4 linked regions of the Homo sapiens genome follow. The protein of the gene in region 2 purifies or fractionates together with the protein of the main gene of each other region. This does not show direct contact. Each region holds a gene or a part of one and is shown on either strand. Other genes may lie near its edges.

Region 1 (3,500 bases), on a different chromosome or scaffold from region 2:
TCTACATCAGTACCTTACCTGGATCTAAACGTTACCTAAACATTGATAGATCTAAACGTTGTTACCTAAACATTTGATAAACATTTTTATCAAAAAAGAAACAGAAAAGATGGTTTGGTTAAACAAAGTTAAATAATCTGACCAGGTGCAGTGGCTCACGCCTATAATCCCAGCACTTTGGGAGGCTGAGGCAGGTGATCATCTGACCTGAGGTCAGGAGTTCGAGACCAGCCTGGCCAACATGACAAAACCCCATCTCTACAAAAAATACAAAAAATTAGCTGGGCATGGCAGCGGGGACCTGTAACCTCAGCTACTTGGGAGGCTGAGGCATAAGAATCACTTGAACCCGGGATGCGGATGTCACAGTGAGCAGAGATTGTGCCACTGCTTTCCAGCCTGGGTGACAGCAAAACTCCGTCTCAGAAAAAAAAGTTAAATAATCTGGCCTGGTTTTAAACTCTATCCTCACTTGCTTATTTTACTTTCAGATTAGAAGTCCTCCTCAATTACCCCTTTCTTGTAACTCTCCCCAGTTTTTTTTTTCCTGCTCACTCTTCCTGTTCTTTCCCCATTACTCCTCCCTTCCTCAATTTTAACATATCAGCAGCTTCAAGCACAAAAATCCATGTAACTATTTCAATTCAAAAACAGAGACAAGGGGCCGGGCCCAGTGGCTCTCACCCATAATCCCAGCATATTGGGAGGCAGAGGTGGACAGACATCTGAAGTTAGGAGTTTGAGAACAGCCTGACCAACGTGGTGAAATCCCGTCTTCTAAAAATACAATATTAGCCAGGCCTGGTGGCACATGCGGGTAATCCCAGCTACTCAAGAGGCTGAAGGGGCAGGAGAATCGCTTGAACCGGGGAGGCAGAGGTTGCAGTGAGCCAAGATCACGCCATTGCACTCCACCCTCAGCAACAACTGCGAAACTCTGTCTCAAAAAAACCCAAAAAAACAACAAAAAAAAGACAAGGTAAAACAAAGCTATGCATTTAGCTCCATGCCTGTGGAAACAGGCTATGGGTGAAAGAAAAATACAAGGCCAGGCACTGTGGTTTAGGCCTGTAATCCCAGCACTTTGAGAGGCCAAGGCAGGAGGAACCCTTAACCCCAGGAGTTCGAGGTTGCCTGAGCTACAATCGTGCCATTACACTCCAATCTGGGTGAGAGAGCGAGACCCTGTCTCAAACACACACACACACACAATTTTAGCTAACCAAAGGTATCACCCAAATAGTTACTGCAAATAGCAAAACAGTAATATCTCTTAGTTTATTTCCAAACTCCATTAGCAGTCTGTAATCAACATCAACCAAAGAGAAGCAGTACATGAAAAGAAAAAAATATCAAAGATAATGTTCAAATAAATGAATTAGTAAAGTAAAATCCCCAAGAAGGCAGTGTAAGTATGGCATAGTGCTGAGTATGTGCTCTGGAGTCAGACTGCTTGAACATTTATTTGGTCAAGATTACAATTCTAACAAAGTAACTTTCTCCCAGTCTCAGCCCCCCTAAATCCTAATTTTCTCATCAGTACCACAGTGACTATAATAGTACTTTCCTCACGGGATTAAGAATTAATTAAAATATGCCACATAAATTACACAGCAAAAAAACCATCATCATCTATAAATGTTAGCCACTATGATTATTATTTTTAGACCTACAGTTTAGAAAGGGACAAAAAAGCAAAATATAAAGAGTAGAAAAGATAAAAGGAAAAGTGGTGTTAACTTCTGGGGAAAAGCAGCGTCCAGCAATAGTTCCAATTACCAACGGATGCAACTATTTATTCCAATCTCCAGAAAAATAAAATACTGAAAATATCTGTCAAAACGTTCAAGTAAATCTGTCCTTGAAGAACTGCTGTACGCAAAGTTGACAAATGTTATAGACTATTCACAGATTAAAGTTAATTGCTAAAAACTCTGATCTCTGGAGTAATCTTTATCCTAACACTACTGCTTAGATTAACAATATCAGTAATGGCAATTTAGAAGAAAACAAGGCTGGACGCAGTGGCTCAGGCCTGTAATCCCAGCACTTTGGGAAGTGGAGGCAGGTGAATCATCTGAGGTCAGGAGTTCAAGGCCAGCCTGACCAACACGGTAAAACCCTGTCCCTACTAAAAATACAAAAAATTAGCTGGGCGTGGTGGCGGGCACCTGTAATCCAAGCTACTGGCGAGGCTGAGGCAGAATCGCTTGAACCCAGGAGGCGGAGGTTGCAGTGAGCCGAGACTGCGCCACTGCACTCTAGCCTGGGCACGCGACAGAGCAAGAGTCCGTCTCAAAAAAAGAAAAAATCACAAATAATAAATATTATGTAGTTTTCTAGAAGAATGATCGTTTGACTCCAGTTCAACTTAATCTTATTTAAGATGCATATTGTTAAGCAACTTGAAAAGTCATTGAATTGAGGAATGAACAAAATACATGCTCTCCCAAGTGAAAGGGTGTGGAATGTTCTCACCGATTTTATAAATCAAGGTAGACACTCAATTAGAATTACTACACACAGGTCTGACAGAGAAAACACATATAACCTAGTCTATTATAACAAAGGGAAACACTGAACTCTCTAATATCAATTTCAGAGAAAAAAAACTCTATTTTACATTTACTACCACTTTCACTCTATGGGAGCTAGCAGGATTCAACAGTTTAAGCAAAAAAAAAATTGGTTCAAAATAAGCAACTGACAAGTTATGATGTTAGGCCATCTTGGTAAAGAGTTCAAAAATTGCAATCTCAGCCGGGCGCGTGGGCTCAGGCCTATAATCCCAGCACTTTGGGAAGCCAAGGCGCAAGGATCACCTGAGGTCAAGAGTTCGAGGCTAGCCTGACCAACAAGGTGAAAACCCAGGTCTCTACTAAAAAAAAAAAAAAAAAAAAAAAAAAAAAAGGCAAAAATTGGCCGAGCGTGGTGGCGGGCACCTGTAATCCCAGCTACTTGGGAGGCTGAAGCAGGAGAATCGCTTGAACCCGGGAGGCGGAGGCTGCAGTGAGCCAAAATCATGCCATTGTACTCCATCCTGGGCAACAAGAGCGAAACTCGGTCTCAAATAAAAATTAGTCTTTCGTCTCAGAAAGACAATTAATTGAAATACCCTCTAATTTTAGTTATACTCGTGTTCACTAATATTAACTGCCTAAAAATTAAATTTTGTCATTAGTCAAAGAGAAAAAAAAATTAAATTTTAGTGTATCTCTTTAAAAAACATTAAATGCCTATGATTCACCGAAAAATTAAATGTAGTAACTAACGGTAACTAAAAACACCGTTTAATCCTGAAAAATACAAACATTAAACGATAACTCTCTCACCTGTCAAAACAATTTCTATTATAGCAATTAATTCACAACTTTTTTTAAAAAAAAGCTTTGCTTACAAACTTAGGCCAGCATAACCTCTTGAGTGGAAAAAAAAATGTATACTCATATTTTCTTAAGTTATTTTAAAGGTTCTTAATTCAGCTTGCTCAGTTCCTCTGA
Region 2 (4,062 bases):
GACAGGGAAAACAGAACAGGAGAAAGTGGGAAACAAGAGATGGATTTGGAGGGACACAGAGGTTACTATGGCTGGGGCCTGCTCTTGGACACTTTCCTCACTCATCTTAGGCAGTCAACACATATTTCTAAGCACCTACTGTGTGCACTGGTAACATAAAGATGAAAAGGCAGGTAGGCAGGTGGAAGCAAGAGTAAGGAATGGCCAGGTGGTTTTGTTTTGTGTTTGTTTGTTTTTTGAGATAGAGTCTCGCTCTGTCGCCCAGGCTGGAGTGCAGTGGTTTGATCTAAGCTCACTGCAACCTCTGCCTCCCAGTTTCTAGTGATTCTCCTGCCTCAGCCTCCTGAATAGCTGGGACTACAGGCCGGTGCCACCGCGCCGAGCTAATTTTTGTATTTTTAGTAGAGACAGGGTTCCACCTTGTTGGACAGGGGTCAAACTCCTGGCCTCAAGTGATCTGCCTGCCTCAGCTTCCCAAAGTGCTGGGATTACAGGTGTGAGCCACCGCACCCAGCCTTGGCCACGTTGTTCTAACACAGCAAAGCTTTGGAGTAAATGAACTGACCCTCCCAAGGCAGTGCCTCTTCTTTCATTCGGAGCAGAGTCCTCCACCTCACCCAAAGAACATATGGGAAAATTATAGACACGAAAAGACTCATCTTACAAGATAAAGATTTGAAAAAAATATGTCTTAGAATTAGACACTTAAACTAGTCCTATAAAAACTACACAAGAAGTTGGAATACTGCAGTGCTACCAATGACTGTTGATTCTTACCACCCAAGCTAGAACACAAACACTACTAAAACTAGTTACTCCACTCACGTAAGTAAAACACAGCCGTTTAATTTACTTTGACAAGTACCAAACATAGTTATTCTAAAAACATCATTATGTCAAACGACAGTGTGTAACAGATTAGTATACAAATACACATGGGCACGTTTGTCGTCATGTCTCCCCCGTCCTGCGTCGCCCCCATTGAAAGCCAGACAGACATAATGCTGACTTACATGGTGGCCCCTAAGCCGGCTAACAATATATACAAGACATGTGACAAGCTTTCTAACTCAAACATTTGCATGTCTACTATGTACAAGTCATCATGTTATCCCACTCAGGACAACCAAAGATGAAATGTTTCTAACCTCAAGAAGCTTAAAATTTAGATAATAATATGTATGTGTATATATACGTTATACAGGTAATGTATAATATATATATACACATAGGTAACACATATAAAGCATATTGTATGTAATGTTTGTAAGCACTTGTGTTAAGTCTGAAATTAATCTGAAGGGGAGCGAGGAAAGAGCTGAAAGACTCCAAAGAGTCTATCTTACAAGTAAATGAAAGTAAAGTACAGGCCTGGCCCAGTGGCTCACACCTGTAATCCCAGCACTTTGGGAGGCTGAGGCGGGTGGATCACCTGAGGTCAGGACTTGGAGACCAGCCTGGTCAACATGGAGAAACCTCTGTCTCTACTAAAAATACAAAATTAGCCGGGCTGTGGTGGCGCACACCTGTAATCCCAGCTACTTGGGAGGCTGAGGCAGGAGAATCACTTGAACCAGGGAGGCAGAGGTTGCAGTGAGCTGAGATCCCGCCACTGCACTCCAGCCTGGGCTACAGGTGGAGACTCAAAAAAACAAACAAAAAAAACACCAGAGTCTGAAAAAAATAAAGTACAAGATAGTATATTTGGAATATGGTTTGATTTACATAAAAATGCACACATGACGGCACATACTGGAGGAAAATAAGCAATACATGAAAACTTGTGTCAGGGCTCAAAACAGGAGTGATTCCTATCCTCACTTCCCAAGATTACCTACCTTGTTTTCTTTTTTCAGCATTTATGTATCTTTTTAAAAGCGTGCCACACACATCTGCGTACAGTCACAGGCTTATGATCAGCAGAGATCTCTAGGATGAAACTATTTAAATCTGAAAACCATGGCCTACTATTGCTCTATTTGGGGGTAATTTCACTTGAGCTGTTTTCAGAAGCAAGTGCACCCAACGCTATGGTAAATTAGACTGAAGGTTTTGTGTTGTGGGATTTCACCCTTCCTACGAAAAGCTCTCTTCCCTCAAACCCACAGACACCACTCCACAATCTGGGGGTTTCTAGTATGATAAATATCTGCCTCCCAAACCCCCCATGGGTCATACGCCACCAAAAATCCTAACCACCTGAACTTAGAAGAAGGCAGAAAGTCTTAATTTATGAGGGAGAGAGGGGTTTCCCACCTGGAGGGACGAGAGCGACTCACTGTCCTCTGTTCCTGGTTCCAGTCACTTACAGGAGCTGGCTGCGCCGTGCTCCCTTCACGCGGCTTTCCACCCAAAGCGCATCACGGCCGCCAGCCCCTGACGCTAGCCCCTTCGCCACCTCCCAGAACCTTCTCTCCCTCTCCCCCACACACGCACACTCACACTCACACATGCAGTCCCATCTGCCCCCGCCAGAGCCGCTCCTTCCAGGGCCCCAGGATGCCAGATCCGGATCCGGGAGATGCAACTTGCGGCGCCGGCCCAGGAGGCTCGGCACCTGCTCGAGCCGCCGGGCCGCGCTCAGCCCCGCGCCGAGCCAAAGCCCGAGTCCAAGCCCGAGTCCAAGCCCGAGCCCAAGCCCGCTGGGTCCGCGCCCTCACCTTGCTCGCCGCGGTCCATGTCTCCAGCCCGCCGCCTCGTGTCCTCTGCAGCACCCCCGCCTGCAGCCCGTCCCGGCTCGGATCGCCCGCCGCGCCGCGCAGAGCTCCTCCTCGCCTCCGCCGGCGACTCCCGCGAAGTCCCCACCCCCAGAGGCGTCGGGCGCGGCGGCGCCGCCCGCCCTCGGCCTGGAGCGCTTTCCTGGGGCGTCACCCAACCACCTGACCCGGTCGACCTGTGCGCTCCGCCACGTCGGCGCGGGCGGCGCAGCGCTAGGAGGGCCGGGCGCACCCCGACTCCCGCACCGGCTGGAAGTCGGCCGGGAGGAGGGAAGAGGACGGCGAGGAGATGGACTCGGCCATGGAGGCTGCGTGGAGCCTGCTTGGGAACCGGGATGGCGTTTGCCTTCCACCATCAAGTTATTTATAAAATCAAAAGTTTCCTCCGAGGCCTTGGAGATGCCCTTTCTCTGCATCTGCGAACACCTACTTTCCTATACTTACAGTAGGAAACACAGGAACGTTATTTAGAAATGCCAGTGGCTCTTTTCTCTCTGTATTTTATTACCTAAATAATGCCCTATGATGTCTTCTCTAACTAGGTCATAAACCAGCATAGGTGAAAATTGCAAAGAATCTCTTGAAAAATTATATAGTCTTTTCCATAGAATGCGGATTTTTTAGGTGACTAGGAAGATTTTCATATAATAAAAATCTGTTTTGAGTGCGGGACTGAGGACAACACTAAAATGAATTAAATCAAATGAAATTAATTAAATTAACCGAAGGTCAGAATTATCAGCAGAGATCTTTGGAAAATGCGTGTTGAGGCGTCATGTCCGTTGATCAAAGGACAGTTTGAGGTTCCCGTAACAATCCAGTTCTTTTCATTAGTAGCGTTAACAATCTGTTTTCACAGGGTTTTGCAGTTACTCGTCTTCCATGAAGTCACTTTGATTGTATGGGTCATGGTCTTCAGGTGGTGTCTCAATTTCGTAAGCTATCTGAGGCTGCAAATGAAGTGGGGCTTCTTTTCTGTGTTGCTTGACGTTTAGGCCGAAGCATTGTGTAGCACTCCACAGACAACAAAGAAGCACTTATTCAGATGTTTTAAAATTACTTGTAGTTACCTGAAGTGACTGTATGCTATTAATATCTCTATACTGTCGTGCTGTATGTAAAGTGTAGCTCTCTCCAGCCTGCATCTTCCAGTGTCTTCTGGGGACGTTTACTGTTTGACTCAACCAGATGTGATCTCTTCTATTTGAGTCCTTCTACTCTGACTGCACTTGGCTCCTCTCCTGTGGCACTCACCCCAGCACTGGTGCCAGGATGCTACCAGTGTATGTTTCACAGTCCTATTAGGTTACAAGCTCCAGGTGGTAAAGTCCTTAAAATGGCCTAT
Region 3 (3,500 bases), on a different chromosome or scaffold from region 2:
TCAAGTATTTATTGAAGACATGCTGTGTGTCAAGAACCAGCTTGGTGCTTATAGCAGTGGGTAGTTTTATCCCTTTTTGGTCTTTAAGGTATTTCTATCCAAAATGGTAAATGTTTTGATTATATATATGCAGTGACTTAGGTTGGTGTTTAGGCTTCAGACAGTATAAATATTTGCTAAAGAAATCACTTGAAATATGCAAGAAAGAGGTCCTTGTTGTAAGACTCAGGTATTTTTATTGTTTTATGAATATTTAGAAGATTTGACCATAAACATATTCTGCCTCAAACTTAACATTTATCAGGGTTTTGTTTTGCTTTTTTTTTTTTTTTGAGACAGAGTCTCCCTCTGTCACCTAGGATGGAGTGCAGTAGTATGATCATGGCTACTGCAGCCCTGACCTCCTGGACTCTAGCAATCTTCCCACCTCAGCTTCCTGAGCAGCTGGGACTAGAGGCATGTGCCACCATGCCCAGCTAATGTTTGCATTTTTCTTTTTCTTTTGTAGAGACAGGGTCTCACTATGTTGCCCAGGCTGGTCTCAAACTCCTGGGCTCAAGCAGTCCTCTCACCTCAGCCTCCCAAAGTGCTGGGATTACAGGAATGAGCCATCTCGCCCAGCCTATCGTAGTTTTTATACTTTCTTTCTTGTTTAATTTTTTTTGTGTTTTAGGGCTCTTGGTGGTATCGCTCAATACGCTATAGTGGAGACCAGATTCTAATACGCACAACACAGATTTATACATACTTTGTTTATAAAACCCGAAATATGGATATGAAACGTAAGTAAACTTTAAGTAACTTTGCTATTAATCACATTGTTTTGTGACTTATGTGGGGTTGATATATATTCCTTAACTCTATACTGTTGAGATTCTATTGTACAGTTTTATAAATAGTTAATTTATATAATTAAAGCTAGAGAAAAATGCCAGCACCCTTTGTCACATTTCTTAATTTATATTTTCATTATTCACATTTACTCATATATTTCATCAGAAATTTTACCATAATCCTTATGCGTGCAAATTTTGTAATTCTAGCTAACATTTATTATTTGTTGTATGCCAGACACTGCTAGTTACTGTATGTGTCTTGACTCATTTAATTTTTGCTGTGTTCTCGTAAGTGAGTGCTGTTTTACAGTACATCTTATAGATGAGGAAACTGAGGCACCGAAAAGTAACACTCTCAAGGATACACAGTAAGTGATATCCAGGATTGAACCCAGGCAGTCTGGTTCTTGAGCCTTAAACCATTATGTTATAGTGTATTAATTGTAGTAAAAATAAAAAGTCTTAGGTGTGTTGAAAGAAAACTAGTGCTAGAGTATTTCATTCCCAGTTCTTATTTAAAAATTTAAGAAAAAAAATACTATTTTCACTTTCTTTGATTATATAAAGCAAACTTTGCAGTTTATCCTTGGGAGATAGAGTGTTACCTTTCAGAATGATGGCTCTGCAAAAATCATAGCTGCTCCTCCATCCCTCTTTAAAAAAAAATAAAATAAAAGAATGTAAGTTTTGAATTGTGTCTCCGGGACCAAAATGGACTTTTCTGCATTTTGGATTTGGCAATTTTACTAATTTTCTTAGTAATGAGAGAGACTTCTCATGGTCATATATGACTGTGTGTGAACAGATTTTACATTTCTGAATGAGTTAATACTACTTTGCCTTATCGAAAATATTACTCTTCCTAAAGCTGGATTGAAATGTTAATACAGAAACTTACTCCCTTATGAAAATGTTTCATGTTTATAATTTTAAGTGTGCTTTTTGCCTCAATCATTTTGATTTCTGTTTCTTTTCTGAGGGTGGTATCCTTACACAGCTTTGTCAGAGAAGCATTGTTTAGCTGGTGGATTTCTTTACACATTCTAGGTTATTTTAGCTGTTTTAGGAACAGTTGTTATTAAGTAAACATTTGAGGGTAGTAATAGTAATAGCTCACACAAGTACTGTGCTTGCTGTGTGTCAGGCACATATGAAGAAGCTGAGATACACAGATATGAAGAATATTGTCCTAGGTCATTTAGCTAGGAAGTGACAAAATACCAAGGTCTGTGCACTTAACTTCTATACTATCCTGCCTTTTGTGAGTACATTACATGGATTTTTTTTTCTCTGAGGCAAAGTTTCTCTCATCTCCCAGGCTAGAGTACAATGGCACAATCTCAGCTCACCACAACGTCTGCCTCCTGGGTGCAAGCAATTCTCCTGCCTCAGCCTCCCGAGTAGCTGGGATTACAGGCGTGCACCACTATGCCTGGCTAATTTTTGTATTTTTAGTAGAGATGGGGTTTCACCATTTTGGCCAGCTTGGTCTCAAACTGGCTGGTCTCAAATTCCTGATCTTGTGATTTGCCTGCCTTAGCCTCCCAAAGTGCTGGGATTACAGGCGTGAGCCACCACTGGCCTGAGGGTTTTAATCATGTGTATTTCCACAAAATCCTCTTGGGTTCCATAATAAAATTTTTTTGGAAAATTATAATGCATATTAGGTTTACAAAAGGCCTTGAGAAGTCATGTAGTAAAGAAACCTTTAACTCTTGTTTACATTATTTTCAGCTTTATTTAATCATAGGGCCCCCTTTTTTCACGTGAATTATTAATACCACACAGAATACTGATGTTCTATAGAAAGTTTCTGTGGAACTTTCAGTGATTTTAATGCCTCCAGTTGCTTTGGTGTGCTTTATTTGATCTATACTTCTGTTCACTTGTGGTGGTTGATACTGTGTACATTTTAAAAAGCGAGATGTTACTTTTTTTATGGAAGAAATAAATACTTGTCAGTGGAGTTCAGATAATTTTTAGCATTGTGCATGTTTAGAAAAGTGCTTCACTTTCAAGTGAATTAAGTATCTCAGGAGGGGGAATTAATGAATGAGCATATTTATTTACCTTCATATTTCTTTTGTTTTGTTAGGTCTTATCATGGTTTTGGCTGGAGCTTCTGAATTTGATCCTCAGTATAATAAAGATGCCACAAGCAGACCAACGGATAATATTCTAATACCACAGGTTAGGCTAATTTCCCAAATCCCCCGATGAGCAGTTAAGTATTAAAGTGAATACTTTTTTTAAAAAAAGCGTGTTTTTGAATAATTATTTTATTTATTCTAGCTAATCAGAGAAATTGGCAGCATTAATTTAAAGAAGAATGAGCCTCCACTTACCTGCCCATATAGCCTGAAGGCCAGAGTTCTTTTACTGTCTCATCTTGCTAGAATGAAAATTCCTGAGACCCTTGAAGAAGGTATTTGTGATTCCGGTATCTACAGAGGTTTAGTGGGATGAAAGCAGCAGAATTAATTAGACTTAATGGTGTGTATTAGTTTGTTCTCGCATTGCTCTAAAGAAATACCTGAGGCTGGGTAATATATAAACAAAAGAGGTTTAATTGGCTCATTGTTCTGATGGCTGTACAGGAAGCATGGCTGGGGAGGCCTCAGGAAACTTTTATTCATGGCAGAAGGCAAAGCCAGAGCAGGCAAA
Region 4 (4,010 bases), on a different chromosome or scaffold from region 2:
AACTCAAGCCTATTTTGACCTCCCAGTTCTCACAGGCAGCAAGCAACAAACCTTATCCATAAATCAGGATGGCAAAAATTTTGCCTGCAGTTTCTTATAAAACTAAACATGCAATTGCCATTTGACCCAGCAATTGTACTCTTTGGCATTTAGAGAAATGAAAATGTATGTTCACACAAAAACCTGTACACAAATGTCTACAACATCTTTATTTGTAACAGCCAAAGACTGGGAGCAACCCAAATGTCCTTTGAACTATGGGTAAATGGTTCAATAGAGTTAATCTGTGGTTAAACAAACAATTAAACTGTTTTATGTACATACCATGAAATAACAGCAAAAAGGAATGCACTATTGATACAATACACATAACACTGGATAAAACTCCAGGAAATTATACTTGGTGAAAAAAAACAACTCCAAAAGGTTACATACTGTATGACTCCATCAGCCTAACATTTTTGAAATGACAAAATTTTAGAAATGGAGAACAAATAGTGCTCCAGGGATTGGGGACAAGGGAGAACATGATGGGGGAGATGGGTGGGGCTATAAAGACCGAATGAGGGATCTTTATGAGGAACTGTTCAGTCCCTTGACTGTGGTGGTGGATACATGAACCTACATGTGAGAAAACTGTACAGAAATACATCTGTGCTCTCATGCATGTGCACACACAAGTACAAATAAAATGACACTCTGATCTGTGGCCTGTATCAATATATACTGTTGTGATAATGTACTACTGTTCTGCAAAATGTTACCACTGGGAGAAATTGGATAAAGTGTATGCCAGATCTCCCTCTATTAGTCCTTTTCTGTTTATTTTTTACACAGGGTCTGGCTCTGCCAACCAGGCCGGAGTACAGTGTTGCAATCTCAACTCACTGCAGTCTCAACCTTCCAGGCTCAAGCGATCCTCCCCAACTCAAGCCTCCCAAGTAGCTGGGACCACAGGTGTGAGCCACGACGCCTGCCTAAATTTTGCATTTTTTTGTAGAGATTGGGTTTTCCTTTGTTGCCCAGGCTGGTCCTGGGCTCAAGAGATCTGCCTGCTTCAACCTCCCAAAGTGCTGGGATTACAGGCGTGAGCTCACACCTGGCCCCTCTATTAATTCTTAAACTGCATGTAAATATACAATTATCTCAATAAGAATTACAAGTTAAAAAAAAAACTTTCCTGCCCAAAAGCTGGGTTTGATAATCTTCTATATTCCTTTCATCTCTTAAGACCTGCAAAATTCCCAATGTCTCCAAAGCCAGTCTTCTTTCCACCATACCACACAACAGCTTCAAAAGCCAAAGCAAAATTAACTCTTGGCAAAGGGAAACTAAGAAAGTAAGCCACCATTTCATAGAATTCTGCATTGCTAGTCATTTTACGTCCCCTCTGAAAATCACTCCAATTTGCTTTTTTCATTAAACTGACTTCTGGCCAAAAAAAATGGAAAATGTGATCCTATAAAACGTTCTTGCTCACCAAATAATCTCTCCCTATCTATGTGCCACCTCCACAACAAGAAGTAACCAATATACAAATTTCGGTTCTGAATCCTCCTTGGAAGCAACAGCGACAATGGATTATTGGTTCCCAAATGGTCAACGGAGCACAGGAAACAGGACAGTGGGTTAGGAGCTGAGACAGTCCCTAAATTCAGGCGTCACCTTGGCCAGGTCATTTAAACCTGAGTCTCGCCTTTCCCATCTATAGAATGGGGATGTGGAACCTCCTTCGTAGATTACAGGAACGATTTAGAGATAATCTACGTGCCCGGCACTGGTATTTATTAGTTCATTAGTAGTAACAACCGAGCCAAGCTCATTTTATGTGCACCTGGCCATGAAGTTCCCATTCACAGCCTTAGAATCCCCTCCTCACCGAGGTTAATGGATAACCCAGAACCTTCCCCACCTGGACCTCTCCTCTTTCAAACACCGCACAGCTCATCTCATCTCATCTCATCTCATCTCATCTCATCTCATCTCATTCCATCCCATTCCATCCCATCCCATCCCATCCCATCCCAACCCACCCCCACCAAAAGGAAAACAGACCAGCCTCGGGATCGGCCACCTCCCCAGCAGCCCCGCTCTTGGGCATCTCTGCGCCAGCCCGACTCGGCTGTTACTATTATTACTATTGATGAGTAACAACACCTAACGGTGCGTGGGAGTGGCCGGCTCCCAAGGGAGGCCTGAGGAACCCCAGCCCCGCGCGGCCCAAAGCCCCTCAGATGCAGATTTCGGGCTAAAAATCCCAAGAATATATACAACAGCTTTCCCGACCGGGGAAAGGCGCGAGTTGTGAAGTTTCTAGAGCGCATTTTTCCCCGTTTCCCCGAGTCGCTCCGCAGGAGCGATGCTGCCTGCGGCTGGGGGTGTGGGCACCGGGGTTCGCGACTGGAGGCCCTGGAGGTCCGCAGCTGGGCTGGTCCGGGTCCTAGGGCGCCCGCTTCCCAGCTGAGCGCGCAGGAGGGGCCCCAGGCGCCGGGGCGGGGTCGCCGCCTCACTCACCTTCTGTGCTTCTCTTCGCCTCCCGGTAGCGCTCCCACAGGTAGCGCTTCATGTCCGGGGCGGTCCCGGGTGCAGTGCACAAGGGCCGGGCGGGGCCCGCACACGGCCGCCCCCGAGCCGCGGTCCCGCAGCCACCCCGCAAAGCCGCCGCTGTCGCTGCCCTCGCCCCGGCCCCGCGTGCCACCACCGCCGCCGCTGCCATGGTCATGCCTGCTGCCTGCTGCCGCCACCGCCGCCGCGCCGCTCTGCGACTGCTGCTGCCCGGCCCAAGATCTACCCGCGCTCTGCCCTGCAGGAGGGCAGCTCCTGCGTCGGAACACGTGGCGGCGCAGGCCTGCCCTCCCGCCGCTGCGGGGCGGGGAGTGGGCGGAGCCGGAGGCGGGGTCTAACGGGGGCGGGGTCGATGGGGAGTGGGCGGGTCTGGGACGGGGGCGGAGACGGGGCGGGGCGGGGCCGGGCCGGGGGCCCCACGCCCAGCCTGCTGCGGTCAATTTCAGGGTGGCGCGGGGGTGGCCGTGTGGTGTGGTGGCGCGCAGGCCACATGGGATGGAATGATGAGGTACGACCCCAGCGCCGCCCGCCCAGCTCCGCCGCACCTTCGTCCTGCCTTCTGGGACTGACCCCCAGCTCTGGCCACAAGGACAGCGCCCCTCCCACCCCAGCTGCTCTGGCCCCGGCCCTAGAAGGTGACCTCTCTCCGCATTAATGGCCTCTGGCAGTCTAATTAATGGCAGTCTGGACCTCCCCTGGATCGTGGGGCCCCTCTGAGACGTCCCCGATCCCCAGCTTAAATTTATCCAGGAGGACCTGTGAGTGGGTGGCTGGGCCGAGGTTCCACTCATGGGCTGATGTCGGCTGGAGGATCCCAGCCCCTTAAGACCTCAGTAAGTTTGAAGGGCCCTCCCATTACACAGCCTGGAAGGCCAATGCCCGCCCCCCGCCTAGGTTTCCGCCTGGCGGCAGAGGTCATTGGAACATGGTCACCCAGCTCCTGCCCCTGCCCACGCTAACGGCTCGGTGCACAGGTCTTCTCTCAAACCTGCTAGGCTCCACCCGTCCTGTGCCTGTGGTTCCACTAAAGCCAAATGAACCGCAACCTCCCTGCCTGGGGGCAATTCTGTGTGGACTGAGTCAGACAGAGCTTCTGCAGGAAAGACTGATGTGGCCCAGCCAGAACCCTGCTGAAAATCGCCGGGCAGCAAGGACTTCCCAAGCTGTCCTGTGGTTACTTAATTTTGAGCAGGTGGAGTAGGGGGAATGGCCCTCAAGGCTGGCACTCTGCCAAGGAGACCATACTGGCTTGTGTGAAATGGGTGGAACACAGTTTAAGACAAATAACCCAAGGCATTAGTGTATGCTCCAGTTGTGGGATGGAGGGGTCTGGAGGTGTTTCATGGAAAAAGGTGGCATCTGGGTTTAAACTACCATTTATTGAAGGCTTGCTGTATGCAGTATCTCATGTAATCCTCTCAGTAATCCTGAAAAGCAGACTCCAT

Evidence for each region. The genes of interacting proteins can lie anywhere in the genome.
Region 1: the proteins of TPD52 (region 2) and GPBP1 purify together in Homo sapiens (affinity purification with mass spectrometry; one large-scale study listed by BioGRID and IntAct). This does not show direct contact.
Region 3: the proteins of TPD52 (region 2) and SEC63 purify together in Homo sapiens (co-immunoprecipitation; one large-scale study listed by IntAct). This does not show direct contact.
Region 4: the proteins of TPD52 (region 2) and NT5DC3 fractionate together in Homo sapiens (co-fractionation; one large-scale study listed by BioGRID). This does not show direct contact.

What each region holds. Positions count from the first base shown.
Region 1 is NC_000005.10:57,177,059-57,180,558, reverse strand, and holds part of GPBP1 (vasculin), read right to left. Parts: intron 1-3,500. UniProt on the Homo sapiens protein: Functions as a GC-rich promoter-specific transactivating transcription factor.
Region 2 is NC_000008.11:80,168,765-80,172,826, forward strand, and holds the start of TPD52 (tumor protein D52), read right to left. Parts: upstream 2,801-4,062; 5' UTR 2,680-2,800; coding exon 2,661-2,679; intron 2,358-2,660; exon of another isoform or gene 2,257-2,357; intron 1-2,256. Other genes in the region: TPD52-MRPS28 protein, read right to left, coding at 2,661-2,679.
Region 3 is NC_000006.12:107,906,209-107,909,708, reverse strand, and holds part of SEC63 (translocation protein SEC63 homolog), read left to right. Parts: intron 1-673; coding exon 674-782; intron 783-2,931; coding exon 2,932-3,026; intron 3,027-3,128; coding exon 3,129-3,261; intron 3,262-3,500. UniProt on the Homo sapiens protein: Mediates cotranslational and post-translational transport of certain precursor polypeptides across endoplasmic reticulum (ER). Proposed to play an auxiliary role in recognition of precursors with short and apolar signal peptides.
Region 4 is NC_000012.12:103,838,435-103,842,444, forward strand, and holds the start of NT5DC3 (5'-nucleotidase domain-containing protein 3), read right to left. Parts: upstream 2,801-4,010; 5' UTR 2,723-2,800; coding exon 2,515-2,722; intron 1-2,514.